Linked DNA regions of Homo sapiens: all the other regions are reported to be linked to region 1. Evidence: microRNA targets listed by miRTarBase, many of them from high-throughput screens and not tested one by one. Region 1 holds a microRNA gene; each other region holds the end of a gene's coding sequence.
Evidence for each region. Region 1 holds the annotated microRNA hsa-miR-548d-5p (AAAAGUAAUUGUGGUUUUUGCC, at 2,392-2,413, opposite strand). A microRNA usually pairs through its seed, bases 2 to 8, with sites in the 3' UTR of a target mRNA and lowers its output. Matches are read on the target gene's strand: a 7mer-m8 pairs with bases 2 to 8, a 7mer-A1 pairs with bases 2 to 7 and ends in A, and an 8mer does both.

Region 2: the mRNA of THRAP3 is a reported target of hsa-miR-548d-5p. Seed matches in the 3' UTR shown: 7mer-m8 at 2,246-2,252.
Region 3: the mRNA of NEK7 is a reported target of hsa-miR-548d-5p. Seed matches in the 3' UTR shown: 7mer-m8 at 1,312-1,318.
Region 4: miRTarBase lists GIMAP4 as a target of hsa-miR-548d-5p. The part of its 3' UTR that is shown has no 7-base or 8-base seed match.
Region 5: the mRNA of CAPZA1 is a reported target of hsa-miR-548d-5p. Seed matches in the 3' UTR shown: 7mer-m8 at 788-794 and 7mer-A1 at 1,270-1,276.

Annotation. Positions count from the first base shown.
Region 1 is chr17:67,469,149-67,473,299 of GRCh38, forward strand. MIR548D2 (microRNA 548d-2) reads right to left here and starts at 2,437; the gene lies at 2,341-2,437. The region is part of intron 1 of PITPNC1 (phosphatidylinositol transfer protein cytoplasmic 1); the gene reads left to right. MIR548AA2 (microRNA 548aa-2) reads left to right here and starts at 2,341; the gene lies at 2,341-2,437.
Region 2 is chr1:36,303,327-36,307,477 of GRCh38, reverse strand. THRAP3 (thyroid hormone receptor associated protein 3) reads right to left here. Exons shown (of 12, transcript NM_005119.4): 12 at 2,121-3,682. The coding sequence ends at 3,461. SH3D21 (SH3 domain containing 21) reads right to left here and starts at 1,110. Exons shown (of 16, transcript NM_001162530.2): 1 at 1,054-1,110; 2 at 723-880; 3 at 573-636; 4 at 193-311. The coding sequence starts at 1,057. RefSeq lists enhancers at 210-259, 62-862 and silencers at 360-799, 1,020-1,069.
Region 3 is chr1:198,319,184-198,323,334 of GRCh38, forward strand. It overlaps NEK7 (NIMA related kinase 7), which reads left to right. Exons shown (of 10, transcript NM_133494.3): 10 at 229-3,237. The coding sequence ends at 339. Among named protein-coding and RNA genes, the nearest start is that of NEK7, 160 kb to the left of the region's middle.
Region 4 is chr7:150,572,509-150,576,659 of GRCh38, reverse strand. It overlaps GIMAP4 (GTPase, IMAP family member 4), which reads right to left. Exons shown (of 3, transcript NM_018326.3): 3 at 2,707-4,151. The coding sequence ends at 3,600. Among named protein-coding and RNA genes, the nearest start is that of GIMAP4, 7.2 kb to the right of the region's middle.
Region 5 is chr1:112,669,716-112,673,715 of GRCh38, forward strand. CAPZA1 (capping actin protein of muscle Z-line subunit alpha 1) reads left to right here. Exons shown (of 10, transcript NM_006135.3): 10 at 277-1,901. The coding sequence ends at 417. Among named protein-coding and RNA genes, the nearest start is that of MOV10, 2.9 kb to the right of the region's middle.

The DNA of each region.
Region 1 (4,151 bases):
TTACTTTTTGTTCCCCAACTGGTGCAATTTTCCCAGTCCCTGTAGTAGCCCCAGGATGGCTCAGAAACTGTCTGGGTTCCTGCTGTAGACACTGTGAGAACTTCCTTTCCAAGTGTAGCCAAGCACCCGCCCCACTGCTGCAGCCTGTGCCATCCTCCCCCTTCTCTGCACACATTGCATATCCCTGTGGTCTCCGTTTTGAGCTCAGAGTGTGGGCCTCCAACCCTCAGCACCGTATCACTCCGTAGCTTATTAGAAATGCAGAATCTGCAGCCCCCGCCCAGCTTGCTGAATCAGCCTCTGTGTTTTAACAAGATCCCCGGGATCTGTCTGCCTGTTGACAAGGGAGAAGCCTGGTCTCGGTTACCTCCTCCTCAGCGTCCTGAGCCTGGCTGGATCGCCAGCACACTCAGACCAGCGGCCCCAGGCTCTTGTGACAGCAGCCGTCAGACCCGTGGGAGTTCAGGTGCGGGTCATCAGGGCCCTGCTGGCTACTCCACCTCTCTGGGTCCCTCAGCTCAGAGATTCCACTTGAGTGTAGAGAGAATTGTTCCCCTCTGCTCTGGTGCCCTCTTTGCACTAATGTTTAGGGACCTAGAAAGGGCATCAGGAAATAAGACAGAACAAAAGCCACCAAGAGGAAGAAGGAAATTCAAGTGCCATAGCTATAGAGAGGCTCAGGAGGATAAAAACAAAGCAATAGCAGGGGCTGAGAGATTTTTTAAAAATCAGCTTTACTGTGATATATAATATATATATGTGTGTGTATATGTATATATATAATTTTTTTTTGAGACAGAATCTTGTTTTGTCATCCAGGCTGGAGTGCAGTTGTGCAATCTCAGCTCACTGTAACCTCCGCCTCCTGGGTTCAAGCGATTCTCCTGCCTCAGCCTCCCAAGTAGCCAGGATTATAGGCACACACCACCACACTTGGCTAATTTATGTATTTTTAGTAGAGATGGGGTTTCACCATGTCGGCCAGGCTGTTTTCAAGCTCCTGACCTCGAGTGATCTGCCCACTTTGGCCTCCCAAAATGCTGGGATTACAGGCATGAGCCACCACACCTGGCCATATTGTGATATAGCTAACATAGAATAGAACTCACTTTAAGTGTACAGCTTGATGAGTTTTAACATATATATACACACACTGTAGTCATGTAACCACTGCCCCATCAAGATACAGAACATTTCATCACCCCTAGAACTTCCCTTGTGACTTTTAGCTGTCAATTACTTCTCTCTACCCCCCACATTCCCCACTCCTGTTCCTAACAAGCACTGATCTGCTTTTGCACTAAAGTCTTGCCTTTCTTAAAGTTTCCTATAGATGCAGTCATACAGATGTAGTCTCTTGTGTCTCACTTCTTTTGCTCAACACAATGTTTTTGAAATTCATCCATATTCCCCGTCCGGGAGGGAGGTGGGGGGGGTCAGCCCCCCTGCCCGGCCAGCCGCCCCGTCCGGGAGGTGAGGGGCACCTCTGCCCGGCCGCCCCTACTGGGAAGTGAGGAGCCCCTCTGCCCGGCCACCACCCCGTCTGGGAGGTGTACCCAACAGCTCATTGAGAACAGGCCAGGATGACAATGGCGGCTTTGTGGAATAGAAAGGCGGGAAAGGTGGGGAAAAGATTGAGAAATCGGATGGTTGCCGTGTCTGTGTAGAAAGAAGTAGACATGGGAGACTTTTCATTTTGTTCTGCACTAAGAAAAATTCCTCTGCCTTGGGATCCTGTTGATCTGTGACCTTACCCCCAACCCTGTGCTCTCTGAAACATGTGCTGTGTCCACTCAGGGTTAAATGGATTAAGGGCGGTGCAAGATGTGCTTTGTTAAACAGATGCTTGAAGGCAGCATGCTCGTTAAGAGTCATCACCAATCCCTAATCTCAAGTAATCAGGGACACAAACACTGCGGAAGGCCGCAGGGTCCTCTGCCTAGGAAAACCAGAGACCTTTGTTCACTTGTTTATCTGCTGACCTTCCCTCCACTATTGTCCCATGACCCTGCCAAATCCCCCTCTGTGAGAAACACCCAAGAATTATCAATAAAAAAATAAATTAAAAAAAAAATGTAAAAAAAAAAAATGTAAAAAAAAAAAAAAAAGAAATTCATCCATATTATTGGATGTATCAATAGTTTGTTCCTTTTTATTGCATAGTAGCATTCCCCTGAATGGATATACCACAGTCTGTTTATTCATTTACCAGTTGATGGACATTTGGGTTACTTCCAGTTTTGGATGATTTTGAGTAAAGTTGCAATGAACATTCACATACAAGTCCTTGTGTGGACCTACGTCTTCATTTGAGAGATTTTTTTCCTTTTAAACTTTTTATTTTATTAGGTTGGTGCAAAAGAAACTGTGGTTTTTGCCATTACTTTCAATGGCAAAAACCACAATTACTTTTGCACCAACCTAAATCTTCCCTCTCTCTGGATTTGCAATTATTCTGTAAATCTAAAGTTAACTTTAGCTAAATCAGGTTGACATCATATACCCCCTAAAGTTAACTTTAGATTTACAGAAGAGTTGCAAATCCAGAGAACCCCCCGTAGTCTTCATCCACCTTCCCCCAATGTTAATATCGTACTAATTATGATACATTTATCAAAACTCAAAAATTAACATGGGCACAGTTGTATTAACTAAACTCCCGACTTTCTTCAGATTTCACCAGTTTTTTCCACTAATGTCCTTTTTCTGTTCCAGGATTTAATCAGGATATAATGTTGCACTTAATTATTATATCATAATAGTCACTTTCAATCTATGTCAATTTCTCTGTCTCTCCTTGTTTTTTTATGACTTTGACATTTATGAAGTGGGCTGGTCAAGTATTTTGTAGGATGTCCCTCAATCTGGATTTGTCTGATGTTTTCTGATCATTAGACTGCAGTTGGGGTTTGGGGAAAGAATACCCCAGAGGTGAAATGGCCTTCTCATCACATAATATTAGGGGGCACATGATATCTACCTGATTGCTCACTGGTGAAGTTAACCTTGATCACTTGGTTAAGGCGTTGTCTACCAGAGTTACCCACCGTAAGCTGCTAATTTCCCTTTCCATACTCTGTTCCAGGGGTGTCCAATCTTTTGGCTGCCCTGGGACACATTGGAAGAAGAATTGTCTTGGGCAACACATAAAATACATCATTAACACTATGACAGCTGTTGAGCTAAAAAAAAAAAAAAAAAAAAAAAAAAAAAAAAGGACCGGGTGCGGTGGCTCACACCTGTAATCCCAACACTTTGGGAGGCCGAGGCGGGTGGGTCACGAGGTCAGGAGATCGAGACCATCCTGGCTAACACAGTGAAACCCCATCTCTACTAAAAATAGAAAAAATTAGCCGGGCGTGGTGGTGGGCGCCTGTAGTCCCAGCTACTCAGGAGGCTGAGGCAGGAGAATGGTGTGAATCCAGGAGGAGGAGTTTGCAGTAAGCCGAGATTGCACCACTGCACTCCAGCCTGGGTGACAGAGGGAAACTCTGTCTCAAAAGAAAAAAAAAAAAAAAGGTCTGTGCATAAATATCATAATGTTTTAAGAAAGTTTATGAATTTGTGTTGGGCCACATTCAAAGCTGTCCTGGGCCACGGGTTGGACAAGCTTACCGTCTATTCATTAGAAGTGAGTCACTCAGGGGAGGGAGATTAGGCCCTGCCTCCTACAGGGAGGGGTTTCAAAGAATTTGTGGACATATGCTAAAACCAGCACCATAATTAATGTGGTATTTTTTTTTTTTTGACGGAGTCTTGCTCTGTAGCCCAGGCTGGAGTGCAGTGGCCTGATCTCGGCTCACTGCAAGCTCTGCCTCTCAGGTTCATGCCATTCTCCTGCCTCAGCCTCCTGAGTAGCTGGGACTACAGGTGCGCACCACCATGCCCAACTAATTTTTTTGTATTTTTAGTAGAGAAGGGGTTTCACCATGTTAGCCAGGATGGTCGCGATCTCCTGACCTCGTGATCCACCCGCCTTGGCCTCCCAAAATGCTGGGAATACAGGTGTGAGCCACCGTGCCCGGCCAATTAATGTATTTTTATTATTTTAAAAGTTATTCTTATTTTTAGAGATAGAGTCTCACTATGTTGCCCATGCTGGTCTTGAACTCCTGGGCTCAAGCTGTCTACCCACCTCGGCCTCCTAAGTG
Region 2 (4,151 bases), not on the chromosome of region 1:
CCAAGAGTCCCTAGGATAATCTGCCACCCTTGGTTCTGCCCAAGCGCCCCTTCCTCCCTCCTTCCCTCCCGCGCTTCCCCGTATCTGCACCGTCGCCATTCCCACCGTCCACACCCTCACTTCCCACCCCGCTCACTAGGGAGGCGCGTTCCATCATCCTCCCCCAAACGGTCCCATCACCTCACCCCTCACCTCCTTTATCATTTCCACGATCTCCCCAGCTTGCAGCTTCAGCTCGTCCGCCTGCTCTGGGCTGTAGCTGAAGTTCACTTTGCACCATCTTTGGGGCCTCGGGTGTTTGGCAGGATGACCTAGCACCGGACAAGCGCGGCTGAGCTCCAGTCGGACGCCCCAGTCAGAGGAGCTGGGGGAAGCGCAAGGCGCGCACGTAGCCTTTGGTCCCTCCAGCCCCGCCCCAGGGCGGAGCATTGCACTCGAGAACCAATCACAGACCGCAGGGCGGCCCCGAGGTCCCGCCCAGAGCCGCGCCCGTCACTAAGAGCCGGAGACGCCGGGGTCGCACTGGCTCCGTGCACCCGCCCACCGGCGCCCGTCCCCGCCCTTGCGCTCACCTCGGCGGCGCGCACAGCGCGGCCTCCGCGCCTCTCCGGAGCCCCGCAGGGTCTCTGGGATCTCCTGGGAATCAGGGCACGGGGAAGGCGCTCTCAGCTCCCGGGGGGCGCGCGCTGAGACCCCACAGCCCGCCCCTGGCTCGGCCTCACCTGCACCAGGCGCTCGGGGAAGAGGCCATAGCGGCCCCCAAACTCTCCGCGAAGCCAGCCCCGCGCGGGCACCCAGCGCACCTGCCGGACCACGTCCCCGGGCGCCAGACTCAGCTCGTCCTCCTTCTGCGCGCGGTATCCGGCCAGGACGAGGACTTCTGCGGGCGGAAGACGGGGCCGGCGTGCGGCTCAGAAAGGCCCAGCCGGGCAGCCTGGCTAGGGCGGGCGTGTCCCCAAGCACCGTAGAGGGCAGCGGGGGTCGGGGGGTGGTGTGGGCTCTTGCTATGTCCACGGTTGCAGAGAGAGGCCACCTCAAAGCCTCCGCACTTACCCATGGTTTCCGGGGCGCCCTCCAGAGCCTGGCAGCTCCCTCTGACGGCCGAGTACTGGGCCCGCGCAGGGTGCGACCTGAGGCAAGACAGTAGGGTAAAGGAGGCGTAGCCGCCAGCCGATAGGTCGGGCCAGGTGCTGGGAGTGGGTGTGGAGAGGGGGCGGCCCGGCTCAGCAGGTCCGGCCCCCAACCCCGGGGTGAGGAGGACTCCAGGGTCTCTGGCCTGTGCAGCGGTCACAGCTCCGTCACAGGTTCTTCCGCCCACCTAAATTTTAGGCCAGCCGCCTCTCCCTTTCCCTCAGCTTTTGCCCGGAGGCTCCCAGCTACAATTTGCACAGAGCCTTTCCAGGCCCACCCTTCCCCAGCTCACAAGCTTTTGGCTTGAGGGGAAAAGGTGGGGAGAGGCACATACCAGGGTGGGGCCCCCCAGCAAGTAGCAACCGCTCTAAACCGGCCTTGAGTGAATGAAGTGGCTGCCCTTGTACCAGCAATAGCTTTGAGTGGACACTTCCAGTCTGCTTTCCTTCAAGGCGTACTCCTCTCTGGCCCCGTACCCACTCTCTACCCCCATATAGGAAGGACACAGCAAAGACCCCTGCTTTGGGGCCAGAGGTCTAGTTTGGTTTCAGAAAACACCTCCAGGTTTTCCCTGGGAGTTAGGCCGGGAGAATGAATTTTACCAGCTTCCAAGATTTCTGCTCACAGTTGAGTCCCCAGCCGGCAGGAGTCTGAAGGTTAGGGCCCACCCTATGGCCAGTCCATGTGGGATAGGCTCTTTCAGGTAGAAGGCTGAGCCTACTAACCACATCCCTTGATCCCTGCCCCACCACCATGATGAAGGAAGCCAAAGTCCTTGCCTATGACACCAGTGGAAAAAATCTGTTTCTCCTGGGGTGTCCAAGGTACACAATGCTCCTCCCAGGAAGGACTGTGTCTGTCTGGGACTCCAGCAGCCTGCGCAAGGCCCCACAGGCCCTTTGTCTTTCAGGTTTTCTGAAACTGCCGTGGGAAGTTATCTACCACCCTCAACACACACACACACTCAGGATGACAATGAACAGAACCCGTTTACATCTGCCACTTCATTTATTTTATTTGCAGGAGGAGTTGAAACAAATTTTAAGGGAGATTTTCATTTTCCCCCTAAACATGAATCATTCAAGTAAAACCAACTTAACTATAGAAATGTAGCAAAGTAAGGGGAAAGCAGCACAACAACGCAAGAGGCAAAGGCTGGGGGGGAGAGGTGGGTGCAGTCCGCATATAACATATGCATAAATGCCTTATGATTCACCTGCTCAGGACCGCCTCCCCAGAAGGCAAGCACAAGGACCCATTTTAAGAGGATGTTTCCCCCCAAACATCTGAGAATGCTTCAACTTAAACAGCTTAAGGTTAAAAAGACAAAGAAAAAAAAAAAGAAACCCAAAAAAACCCCTGAACCACCCAGCCATAACCACCTTCCTTAATCGATCATAGGAGTTTCTTTTCATTTTATAAAAAGATTAATAAAAAATATTGAAAAAATTTTCTCATATTTGTAAAGATAATAGAATTCATAAGTTTCTTAGAAAACAGACCAGACACTGCCCTCCAGTTTCCACCCCGTTGCTGGGAGGATCAGCAGGACTAGAAAGTTTGGGATACTGGAGCTGCTGGTGGAGAACGGGGAAGTCCAGCCCAGAAGAAATCAGGAAATAGGGCTCAGGGGCACGTGAGGTGTGGTAAGGAGCAACTCCACGTGATACATGGCTGCGCAGAAAAGGGGAACACAAGGTGGTCGGAAAGGCCTTAAACTCCTCCTTGACATACAAAACCGGTTTTTACAAAGATCCAAGCAGTTTGGTCCCAAACTGAGGTGAACACTTCAAAGTTTATTCACATGCTTTTGTTTTCTCTTTCAAGAATCAAAGTTTCCCAAATTAAATGTTTCTAATATTACTACATATGCCTAAAAAAAGAAAAAAAAAAAAAAAAAGGAGGGGGCTTTTAAAATCAGGACAGGGGAAAAGAGATCGAAAATCATCAAATTAGTCATCTTAGCTCCAAATGAAATGAAATTAGAACAAAACTGTTGGTTTCTAATAGGAAACAAAAATCCAAGCATCGCTCTCCCGCCCTACCCCTGCCCCCACCCCACACACCAACAAATGAGAAAAACAGCTAAAGCCCAATGCGTTGTATTCTGCTCAAAAGCTGGGCCTGACCCCTGGGCCCCATGGCCAGCCTCCTCTGTCCAGTGGGAGACAGCGCCAGGGATGCCTCTCGCGGTAGTACAATCTGTGCGGCTGGTGGGGGGTGGGGGTAGGATTTTCAGAATCTTCTTGAGGTTCCTCTGTTAAGCTCCTCACCAGCCATCTTCCCAGCGCCTCTCTCCCCTGGGCAGGAATCCCGTCAAGGGTGGCCCCTACTCGGTTGTGGGCTGTATATTGTCCTTCTCTTCTCGGTTCTCTGTCCCACTCTCGTCGTCTTCAATCTCCCCTTCCTCCCCACTGAACTTGTCATGGGCCCACTTGGGGCTGGTACTTGATTTCCGGAACATGAACCGGCCCCGACCCCGAGGAAAGGCTCCTCGGCCCCGGCCCCGGCTCACCCACTTGTCACTGCCTTCGCCTTCACGGTCATCATGCTGAGGGGAAAGAAAATTGCCATCAGTGCCAGAGTGAACAAGATGTGGCCAGAGCTCTCTTCTCTGCACGCACCCAAATGTGCCTTTCCCAAAAGAACCTGTGCCCTAACCCAGCCTTTTGATCCTTTTCTGCACTTCTCCCTGTCCCCCACTCCAAAAATGCCAGTGGTTCAGATCCATGAGAATATCAGTTGGGTGATTTAGGAATTTTAAGGTAACAGCTTGGGCATTGTAACGATGATTGACAATGATGATGATTCACTGAGCAAGAACCCTTAATAGTTTAAAGAAAATAAAAACGTCACTGAGCACTGAAGTAAGACATTTATGTACTATCTCATTTAATTCTCCTATCTACCCTATCATTATCACCTCCCACTCTGCAAACGTGCTTAAAGCTTAGGAACTTTAAGCAACTCCATATGATTTAGTATATCCTCTCTCAAAGGGTGGGTTTGAGAAAGCCAAT
Region 3 (4,151 bases), not on the chromosome of region 1:
TACTTCTTGGTTGACATTAATACTGTCCATTCAATGCACTTCATAGAACATTTAACTTATTGTAAGATCATTGGCAGCAGTCTTATATATATTTCTAGTACAGTGAATGTTTAGTCAGAAAATGTACTTTCCTTGTAAAATCTATAGCTATTCATAATTTCTTCCTCTCAGTAAACTAACCAAAAATAGTTGTCTTAATCAGGTTTTATTGTTTTTCTTTCTTCACAGCTCCGACAGTTAGTTAATATGTGCATCAACCCAGATCCAGAGAAGCGACCAGACGTCACCTATGTTTATGACGTAGCAAAGAGGATGCATGCATGCACTGCAAGCAGCTAAACATGCAAGATCATGAAGAGTGTAACCAAAGTAATTGAAAGTATTTTGTGCAAGTCATACCTCCCCATTTATGTCTGGTGTTAAGATTAATATTTCAGAGCTAGTGTGCTTTGAATCCTTAACCAGTTTTCATATAAGCTTCATTTTGTACCAGTCACCTAAATCACCTCCTTGCAACCCCCAAATGACTTTGGAATAACTGAATTGCATGTTAGGAGAGAAAATGAAACATGATGGTTTTGAATGGCTAAAGGTTTATAGAATTTCTTACAGTTTTCTGCTGATAAATTGTGTTTAGATAGACTGTCAGTGCCAAATATTGAAGGTGCAGCTTGGCACACATCAGAATAGACTCATACCTGAGAAAAAGTATCTGAACATGTGACTTGTTTCTTTTTTAGTAATTTATGGACATTGAGATGAACACAATTGTGAACTTTTGTGAAGATTTTATTTTTAAACGTTTGAAGTACTAGTTTTAGTTCTTAGCAGAGTAGTTTTCAAATATGATTCTTATGATAAATGTAGACACAAACTATTTGAGAAACATTTAGAACTCTTAGCTTATACATTCAAAATGTAACTATTAAATGTGAAGATTTGGGGACAAAATGTGAGTCAGACACTGAAGAGTTTTTTGTTTTGTTTTAATATTTTTGATATTCTCTTTGCATTGAAATGGTATAAATGAATCCATTTAAAAAGTGGTTAAGGATTTGTTTAGCTGGTGTGATAATAATTTTTAAAGTTGCACATTGCCCAAGGCTTTTTTTGTGTGTTTTTATTGTTGTTTGTACATTTGAAAAATATTCTTTGAATAACCTTGCAGTACTATATTTCAATTTCTTTATAAATTTAAGTGCATTTTAACTCATAATTGTACACTATAATATAAGCCTAAGTTTTTATTCATAAGTTTTATTGAAGTTCTGATCGGTCCCCTTCAGAAATTTTTTTATATTATTCTTCAAGTTACTTTCTTATTTATATTGTATGTGCATTTTATCCATTAATGTTTCATACTTTCTGAGAGTATAATACCCTTTTAAAAGATATTTGGTATACCAATACTTTTCCTGGATTGAAAACTTTTTTTAAACTTTTTAAAATTTGGGCCACTCTGTATGCATATGTTTGGTCTTGTTAAAGAGGAAGAAAGGATGTGTGTTATACTGTACCTGTGAATGTTGATACAGTTACAATTTATTTGACAAGGTTGTAATTCTAGAATATGCTTAATAAAATGAAAACTGGCCATGACTACAGCCAGAACTGTTATGAGATTAACATTTCTATTGAGAAGCTTTTGAGTAAAGTACTGTATTTGTTCATGAAGATGACTGAGATGGTAACACTTCGTGTAGCTTAAGGAAATGGGCAGAATTTCGTAAATGCTGTTGTGCAGATGTGTTTTCCCTGAATGCTTTCGTATTAGTGGCGACCAGTTTCTCACAGAATTGTGAAGCCTGAAGGCCAAGAGGAAGTCACTGTTAAAGGACTCTGTGCCATCTTACAACCTTGGATGAATTATCCTGCCAACGTGAAAACCTCATGTTCAAAGAACACTTCCCTTTAGCCGATGTAACTGCTGGTTTTGTTTTTCATATGTGTTTTTCTTACACTCATTTGAATGCTTTCAAGCATTTGTAAACTTAAAAAATGTATAAAGGGCAAAAAGTCTGAACCCTTGTTTTCTGAAATCTAATCAGTTATGTATGGTTTCTGAAGGGTAATTTTATTTTGGAATAGGTAAAGGAAACCTGTTTTGTTTGTTTTTCCTGAGGGCTAGATGCATTTTTTTTCTCACACTCTTAATGACTTTTAACATTTATACTGAGCATCCATAGATATATTCCTAGAAGTATGAGAAGAATTATTCTTATTGACCATTAATGTCATGTTCATTTTAATGTAATATAATTGAGATGAAATGTTCTCTGGTTGGAACAGATACTCTCTTTTTTTTCTTGCAATCTTTAAGAATACATAGATCTAAAATTCATTAGCTTGACCCCTCAAAGTAACTTTTAAGTAAAGATTAAAGCTTTTCTTCTCAGTGAATATATCTGCTAGAAGGAAATAGCTGGGAAGAATTTAATGATCAGGGAAATTCATTATTTCTATATGTGGAAACTTTTTGCTTCGAATATTGTATCTTTTTAAATCTAAATGTTCATATTTTTCCTGAAGAAACCACTGTGTAAAAATCAAATTTTAATTTTGAATGGAATAATTTCAAAGAACTATGAAGATGATTTGAAGCTCTAATTTATATAGTCACCTATAAAATGTTCTTTATATGTGTTCATAAGTAAATTTTATATTGATTAAGTTAAACTTTTGAATTGATTTGAGGAGCAGTAAAATGAAAGCTATATCTATTCTAAACCTTATTTAGACATTGGTACCAGTTACCCAGGTGAAAATATGGAGTAACTTTGTTTTGTATGGTAAGGTTTAGGAATGGTGGATGAAGGGTATCTCTATATAAATAAAGTGCTCAACAATGTGCAATGATTGTAAATTTAGTAAGATATTACAGCCATTTCATGAATGCTTTACCATTCAACATAGTATCTATTACAAAACACCTTTCTTGTATCCATATACTTCAGGTGTTGCTGTTAACATTTACTATGATATTTATTTTAACCAAAATGTTACTCACATTAAATGTTTATTCTTTAAAATGAATGTATTATGTTTTTAACCCACAAATGCATACTTACCCTGTGCCTCATATTTCAATAGTACTGTAATATGGACATCTTTTGTGAAATACTTTTATTTTGTTATGCTTTAAATATACATACAAAAAGATTTCTGTTATTAGCTTTGAAAATTGTATAATATCCTAATATAAACAAAAATATAAAAATAAAAATGAATACAGTAAAATGTCTGGGTATCTATGATTTTTTCCCCTAAAGTCTTCCATTTTTTATTTTACTTAATACTTAATGTACAGAAACAGTTCTTACGCATTTTCATAACTTTGCCATTTTGGAGAAGCTTAAGAATTGGAATAGACAAGGGTGATAACAGAGATTACACAAATCCTAAAAAGTAGTTTTATCAACATGCATTAAACTAAGGACATCTTCAGGACATCATTTTCTGTTTTTGAATGAGAAACGTTTTCTAAAAGGTAAAAAAAAAAAAAAAGGAATATTAATCTTACTGCTTTGAATCTTTAGAGCAGGGGTGTCCAATCTTTTGGCTTCCCTGGGCCACATTGGAAGAAGAATTGTCTTGGGCCACACATAAAATGTGCTAAGACTAACAATAGCTGATGAACTAAAGAAAAAATAGCAAAAAAAAATCTCATAATGTTTTTTAAAAGTTTACAAATTTGTATTGTACTGCATTCAAAGCCATTCTGGGCCGCATGCGGCTCATGGGCTGTGGGTTGGACAAGCTTGCTTTAGAGTCTAAAATTTACATGACAGATTCAATTCCTGTCATTGTAATGGGCTGCTAAGAATGTTACAGATGGTTTATGTTGAGTGTTATCTTCACATAATAAATGAAGGTTACTGCTATACCTGAAAACTGAGTCTGAAAGATCTTAGCGGGATGAAACCTACCAGACTGTTGGTACAGTGAGTGGATATACCTTACACATCAGAATTATATTCCAAATATACCGTCATGAAGAATGACCCATTTTGTAATAATTTTAGTCACAAGACAGTGGGGCTAGTTATGAATTTTTATTTCAAAAAAGTATACTTGTTTTTAGGCATATATGCTTAAATATATTAATTGGTACAGCTGTAAGTACCATTAAATTGATGCAATTACTTTTTAAA
Region 4 (4,151 bases), not on the chromosome of region 1:
AATTACATATTGATGGGACGTATCTCAAAGTAATAAGAGCTATCTATGACAAACCCACAGCCAATATCATACTGAATGGACAAAAACTGGAAGCATTCCCTTTGAAAACTGGCACAAGGCAGGGATGCCCTCTCTCACCACTCCTATTCAACATAGTGTTAGAAGTTCTGGCCAGGGCAATCAGGCAGGAGACGGAAATAAAGGGTATTCAGTTAGGAAAAGAGGAAGTCAAATTGTCCCTGTTTGCAGATGACATGATTGTATATCTGGAAAACCCCATCGTCTCAGCCCAAAATCTCCTTAAGCTGATAGGCAACTTCAGCAAAGTCTCAGGATACCAAATCAATGAGCAAAAATCACAAGCATTCTTATACACCAATAACAGACAGAGAGCCAAATCATGAGTGAACTCCCATTCACAATTGCTTCAAAGAGAATAAAATACCTAGGAATACGACTTACAAGGGATGTGAAGGACCTCTTGAAGGAGAACTACAAATCACTGCTCAATGAAATAAAAGATGACACAAAGATATGGAAGAACATTCCATGCTCATGGGTAGGAAGAATCAATATCGTGAAAATGGCCATACTGCCCAAGGTAATTTATAGATTTAATGCCATCCCCATCAAGCTACCAATGACTTTCTTCACAGAATTGGAAAAAACTACTTTAAACTTCATACGGAACCAAAAAAGAGTCTGCATCACCAAGTCAATCCTCAGCCAAAAGAACAAAGCTGGAGGCATAATGTTACCTGACTTCAAACTATACTACAAGGCTACAGTAACCAAAACAGCATGGTAGTGGTACCAAAACAGAGATATAGATCGATGGAACAGAACAGAGCCCTCAGAAATAATGCTGCATATCTACAACCATCTGATCTTTGACAAACCTGACAAAAACAAGCAATGGGGAAATGATTCCCTATTTAATAAATGGTGCTGGGAATACTGGCTAGCCATAAATAGAAAGCTGAAACTGGATCCTTTCCTTACACCTGATACAAAAATTAATTCAAGATGGATTAAAGACTTACATGTTAGACCTAAAACCATAAAAACCCTAGAAGAAAACTTAGGCAATACCATTCAGGACATAGTCATGGTCAAGGACTTCATGTTTAAAATACCAAAAGCAATGGCAACAAAAGTCAAAATTTACAAATGGGATCTAATTAAACTAAAGAACTTCTGCACAGCAAAAGAAACTACCATCAGAGTGAGCAGGCAACCTACAAAATGGGGGAAAATCTTTGCAACCTACTCATCTGACAAAGGGCTAATATCCAAAATCTACAATGAACTCAAACAAATTTACAAGAAAAAAACAAACCCATCAAAAAGTGGGCAAAGGATATGAACAGACAATTCTCAAAGGAAGACGTTTATGCAGCCAAAAAACACGTGAAAAAATGCTCATCATCAGTGGCCATCAGAGAAATGCAAATCAAAACCACAATGAGATACCATCTCACACCAGTTAGAATGGCGATCATTAAAAAGTCAGGAAACAACAGGTGCTGGAGAGGATGTGGAGAAATAGGAACACTTTTACACTGTTGGTGGGACTGTAAACTAGTTCAACCATCGTGGAAGTCAATGTGGCGATTCCTCAGGGATCTTGAACTAGAAATACTATTTGACCCAGCCAGCCCATTACTAGGTATATACCCAAAGGATTATAAATCATGCTGCTATAAAGACACATGCACACGTATGTTTATTGCAGCACTGTTCACAATAGCAAAGACTTGGAACCAACCCAAATGTCCAACAACGATAGACTGGATTAAGAAAATGTGGCACATATACACCATGGAATACTATGCAGCCATAAAAATGATGAGTTCATGTCCTTTGTAGGGACATGGATGAAACTGGAAACCATCATTCTCAGCAAACTATTGCAAGGACAAAAAACCAAACACCCCATATTCTCACTCATAGGTGGGAATTGAACAATGAGAACACATGGACACAGGGTGGGGAACATCACACACCGGGGCTTGTTGTGGGGTGGGGGGAGGGGTGAGGGATAGCATTAGGCGATATACCTAATGCTAAATGACAAGTTAATGGGTGCAGCACACCAGCATGGCACATGCATACATATGTAACAAACCTGCACATTGTGCACATGTACCCTAAAACTTAAAGTATAATAATAATAAAATTTAAAAAAAAGGAAATGTATATCCTATTTTGGGCAAAATGATTTAGGGCATGGAGAAGCCAATTTCAAGATGGCAGAACATGGAATGTTGGCATAATCACATGTGACCTCTAGGACATACTGGTAGAACATGAAAACACGCTTTCAGGATTTCTAGAAATTATTAGGTGAGGAGAGCCCAGTAGAAAAGTAGAAAAGGGATAGGAACTTCAACTATCGCTATCTCTATAGTAAAGGGAATTTTTGCACCAACAAAACTACACAGGTCTCAGAAACCTTGGTTACTCATAATTTCCATCAGCACATAATGAAGATCCAAGGAAGTTGTGGTCTTTGGCTGATAAATGGGTTGAGATTGTGGCTCAAATCTTCTAGGGAAAGGGGGAAGGGGAGATGTCATGAGGGTAGACAAAGTCTAGCTCCAAAATCATCTTGAACTCTTACCATAAAGTGAAATTCATCCCTGTATTATTAGAAGTAGCAGTAGTATTTTCCAAGACAAAACAGGTTCCAATTCTGCACAAATATGAGATAATTGAAAAGTTTTATTATAAACAACATAAGCAAAAAATTCAATGCAGTGGGGGCAGAAGTGTGTGGATGACCTGCCAAACAATAAGTATTCAAAGTGTTGAGTGAGGGAGGTGAGGTTGCAACTATCTTTCTCTAGAAAAGAAGAGAACTGGGTATTCATCAAATTGGTTAAATTGAGGTTCGTCAAAGAGTTTCTACAGATACAGCTGAATATACTAAACATTGCTCTATTATCTGTTGAATTGCTGTATTTCACTTTTTCAGCATTTGGGGATCATTATTTAATTGAATTTGTAGAGATCGATTTTCCAGACAGGTCTCTGTTCTTCAATGAACAAATGATAAGAAACAATTTGACTCCTTATATGACAATGGAATTAAATAAATTGACACTCATCTAGGAATAATTCTACAATCATCTCCATCTCTAAGATTACCTACTGCAAACAAAGAATTGATCTTTCTTTCTCAAAAACCACATGGGTAAGATGATCATTGTGACTCTGAATGCAAGAATAAGTGAGTGGAAGCTACAAGGGGAGATTATCTGCCAACATAGAAAGAATCTAGAAGAAAAGATTTTATTACAGGTAACATGACATAGCTTGGAGCCATCTTTTTGGTCTCTTGCATACATTTTCTCTGCATGTCTAAGGAAGAATTCACAAGGTAGCAAGCACCAATACTTTCTGCTTTGGAGTTTCACAAATTGAAAATTTGTCCCTCTCTTGTTAAGTCAATCAAACATCTACCAATGGCCAATGGTGGTCCTTAGTTACGAGTGCCTGAGAGACAGAAACTAGAGCACTCGACTATGCTAAATAAGTAAGTATGGGGCAAGGTTGCCAGAGAATATGCAGAAAATACAAACAGATTTTCATTAAGTTTAATCTTCCGCGAACAGACGTAACAAAATAAAGGAAGCAATCTGTAACGCTGTCATGATTAATTCAAGTATCCCATCCTTACTCTCCACTTCCGTTCTTGCCCTTTGCTGCCTTACAGCATAGTGAGCCTCCTGTTCTGCTAGTTTCTTCTCCATTTGCTTCTTTCTCTTTTCCTGCTCCACTTTATCTTCCAGCTTTCTGATTTTCTCTTCATACTCCTCTCTTATCCGCGCTTTCTCTCTCTCCAGCTCCACTCTGTGGAGTTCTTGCATTGCTTGTGTTTGCTTCTGGATCTCCTCCTCCGCCCTTTGGTACATCCTATTAGTGTAGCAGCCTTCCTTGTTCTCCCTCACCACGCGCTGGATCAGGCCCAGCAACTGTGCCCTCTGGGCCTCCTGCTCAGCGCCTGTTGCCTTGTTGTTTAACGCACAGTAGCGGTCACCGAAAATGTCCATCAAGTCTTGAATGTCTTCTGGAGCTTCCCTTAAGTAGTCATGCAAATTGGTGTCACCTAAGTCATCTTTCCGGGTGAATATGAGAATCATGAAACT
Region 5 (4,000 bases), not on the chromosome of region 1:
TTACTAAATGTGGGAGACTTTGCAGACCTTCCAAGTTGGCATTCTGCTTACAGTCAGGGTTTGAGGATTGCTTGGGACTGTAGCCCTCATTTTAGAAATAATATAGGTGAACTTCTTGACCTACTTCAGAGATTGGAGAGGAGCTCATTGAAAATAATATATCCTGTCTATCCTTCACAGGGGACTCAAGCATATCCATTGACTATAGCATTACTTTTCTGTTCACAACCAGCCCCATTTCTGTTCAAGCAACTCATCTTCAATTATCTATTGCAGACAGCAATTAGTGAAAACTATCAAACAATGTCAGATACCACATTCAAGGCCTTGCGCCGGCAGCTTCCAGTTACCCGCACCAAAATCGACTGGAACAAGATACTCAGCTACAAGATTGGCAAAGAAATGCAGAATGCTTAAAGGCTGAATGTAGGATTCTTCAGTATGTGGAAAGACAAGGATTCAACGTGTGGTCATATGATAAATAAGTGATTTATAAACAAGAGTGATATTTTGCTAGGGCTTTCAAAGTTAACCGGTTTTCTAGCCTCATGGAATACTGTTGAACCTATAGCGTTGTCTTGATTCTTTTGTGTTCTCTGCCTTGTAATTTTCTGTTACTGCTATATCTACGTGTAAATCTTTTTTTCTTTTTTTTTTTTTTTTTTTGGTTAATTCTGCCACATTTAATGTTGGTGAGAGAGTGATCTATCCTAATGACATTTTACTGTTTAAAAAAGTTTCCTAGCCATGAAGCCCTGCTACTGATTTAGACAAGGTATTATGGTCATTACTTTGTACCCCTATCCTTCCAAGCACTTCTGGTACTTCAGTCGTTTTTACTGATCCACCAACACCTAAAGAGGCTATGCTACAGTCTCTAGCTAAATGGAAGACACATTCATCCTTCTCCCTCTGACTGCTTTGATCATCATTTATTGCATCTCATAACTAATTTTCTAAAGTTTGGATTGGGACTTTTCAGGTCCTTTTTGGAGGGCAAAGGAAGTGCCAGCTTCTCTGGGGAACTTGTTTTTAAATCCAAAGACTTGAACCACATTCCCTGCACATGAACATGTTTGCTTTTATCCCTTCTCTCATTGTCTCCTTCCCATCTTAGTACCATTGTAGTTATAAACATCTGCATTTTTTAGAAGCATTTTACCCATTTATTTTTTTAAACATTCAAGAACTGCTGACGTACTGTGGATGTAGAGTATAAAACTTGAAAAATGCAGATGTTGAAGGAATAATAGGTATCTTGTGCTTTAATACTTTATGGCAGGATTGTACTATAAGCAAATGAATTAAACAGCTATGTAAATCATAAAGAAAAACTAAAAATGAACCAAAGTGAAAGGATAACTTCCAGGCAGTATCTTTCTATTGTAACCTGTTATTTAAGGAAATACTAGTGATTTCTTCTAAATAGGATGTAAAACTTCTTTCAAATTACTCTTCCTCAGTCCTGCCTGCCAAGAACTCAAGTGTAACTGTGATAAAATAACCTTTCCCAGGTATATTGGCAGGTATGTGTGTAATCTCAGAATACACAGGTGACATAGATATGATATGACAACTGGTAATGGTGGATTCATTTACATTGTTTACACTTCTATGACCAGGCCTTAAGGGAAGGTCAGTTTTTTAAAAAACCAAGTAGTGTCTTCCTACCTATCTCCAGATACATGTCAAAAAAAGAAAGGTGTTTGTGCTTCCGTTTTGTTTCTGCTCAGTAATATAGTCAAGCAAGTTTGTTCCAGGTGACCCATTGAGCTGTGTATGCATTTTTGTTTATTTCAATAAAATATATTTGTATTATTTGTCCTTCATACTATCCATCCATACCACACTATCTTCTGTATCAGGTAGTCTAATAGAAATATACCTGTTTTGTTCTAAAATTGTCTGAGTCTCTCCTTTTTGATTCATCGCTTCAGCCTTGGTTCTCAAGGTAAGATATTCAGCTGTATTTGATCTTATGTTGAGAATGTTTAGGGTTTCTAAAATTGGTTTCTACCTTCAACTATTTATAGACTCTGAATATCCACAGATTTGCAAAGAACAGCTTTTTAAAGCGTGAGCAATGTCTATGGATCATACTGCTCTTCACTCAAAGACTACCCATGTTTCAAAGGGAAAAATGTAGTTGTCTTCTGTACCTGTCACTCAGAAAGCAAGGCCCAAGTACAGTTGTAGTCACTAGGCAGAAGTAGAAATGAAAGAATCCCTGCCTTAAACTTGGTAATATTTCACATTGCGTTATCTTGAAATGCTGCTTTCCTCTCCTTAGCTGGCCTAGCTACAAACTTGTGGGAGAGGCTTTTATCCTGGTTCCCAAAAGAAAACCAGAGGGAGTTTTTATGCTTCAAGTACTCCATCCAAGGCCAGTTCAAATTCCCACCTTTTTGAGGAATATTTAGCTGCATTCCATTCTATTTGTAATGCAAATAGATTGAAACATTCTTGCTTTTAATTTATTAACTCTCTCATCCTGCCCCTGCTATCCCATTGATTCCTTAGCTTAGACTTTTTTAAAAAATTCTTAACCCCTTAACTATCTAAAGGCCTTGGTTACTTGTATAGTCGGGAGGAAGTCAACCCTCCTTAACCAAGTCTGCCAGAGACACTCCCTCTCCCCCTTCCGCCCCCTTCTTAACCTCCCTTAGCAGAATATTTGCTTGAATTGTATCTATTTTATCACCACAAGCTGCTGAAATCAGCCTGTTGTACGCTATGGCAAAGATTTCCCAGCCATCTGGAAAAGGGTTTTTTGTGAGGCTTCCCTCCTATATTTTGGTTTGAAATGACACTGCTGAAGACTTTTTTCATCTGAGCCTCAGTGGTTATCCCTCTATTGCTTGCCTAGTTCCAGTGCCTGTTCTCTTTTATAGTCTAAGACTTCGGTGCTGGACTCATCTAGGTTCATGGGATGCTTGGCAAACTTGGCATATTCTCTTCAAACTCAAAGAATGATAAATATTTGAATGCCAACTTGTGAATTTACAATTTTCTATAAAACTACCAAGTAAACCAAATGCTGGTGACCATTGTCTCGTTTTTCAGCTACCTACTATGTGAAAAATCAAAGGAAGATTGGTAAATATGAACAAAGCTGGATTGTCCTGTAGTTTAAGTTGAGCTAACTTAAATTTCTTCTTTGAACAGATAGGGTATATATAAATGCACAGAGTATATATAAGCTCTCTGAGCACAGAAACAAATCTCACATCTGACGGCCAGAGGTCACTCTCCTCACCATCTTGGTTTTGGTGGGGTTTAGCCAGCTTCTTTACTGCAGCCTGTTTTATCAGCAAGGTCTTTATGACATGTATCTTGTGCTGACCTCCTGTCTTATCCTGTGACTTAGAATGCCTAACCTCCTGGGAATGCAGTCCAATAGGTCTCAGTCTCATTTTACCCAGTCCCTGTTGAAGATGGAGTTGCTCTGATTCAAAGAGCTCTGACAATAACAATTAGAACCCCATGTGAAGTAGATTTTTCTGGATGAAATTGTTTAGAGAAGTTCCATTGTAAACAAAGCCACATAGCATCACACTTTTTACCCAAGGTTTTACTATACTGCAGACTTTTGTGTACGTTTTGAGAACATCCAAGACATAAACCTGACCAGAGAAGAAGGGAGATTGTATCCAAGAATAATAGGGATTTAGATTTGCTGGTCAGAATGGAGCCAGACATTCAGTTTGAGTACGGTTGATGGTACGTTTTTGAGATGGTAAGTAACAAGGCAATTTTTAAGAGTTCACCCTCTCTATTCTTCTGGAACCTCATCAGGACATTGAGGGAGAAAAAAGGTAAAATCTTTGGCTGCTTTTCTAGTTTTTTCTTCTACTTTGCATAATAAGTTTGTAAGATGTTTTCCTCTGCCCTATTTTACCCATCCCCGTAGCTTTGGTTCCCACTGACATTGCATTTCCTGTTGCTAAAGCCTGTTATTCCTGGCTTCATTTGGTTGTTGGCCTGAGAGAAGGTACCGGGT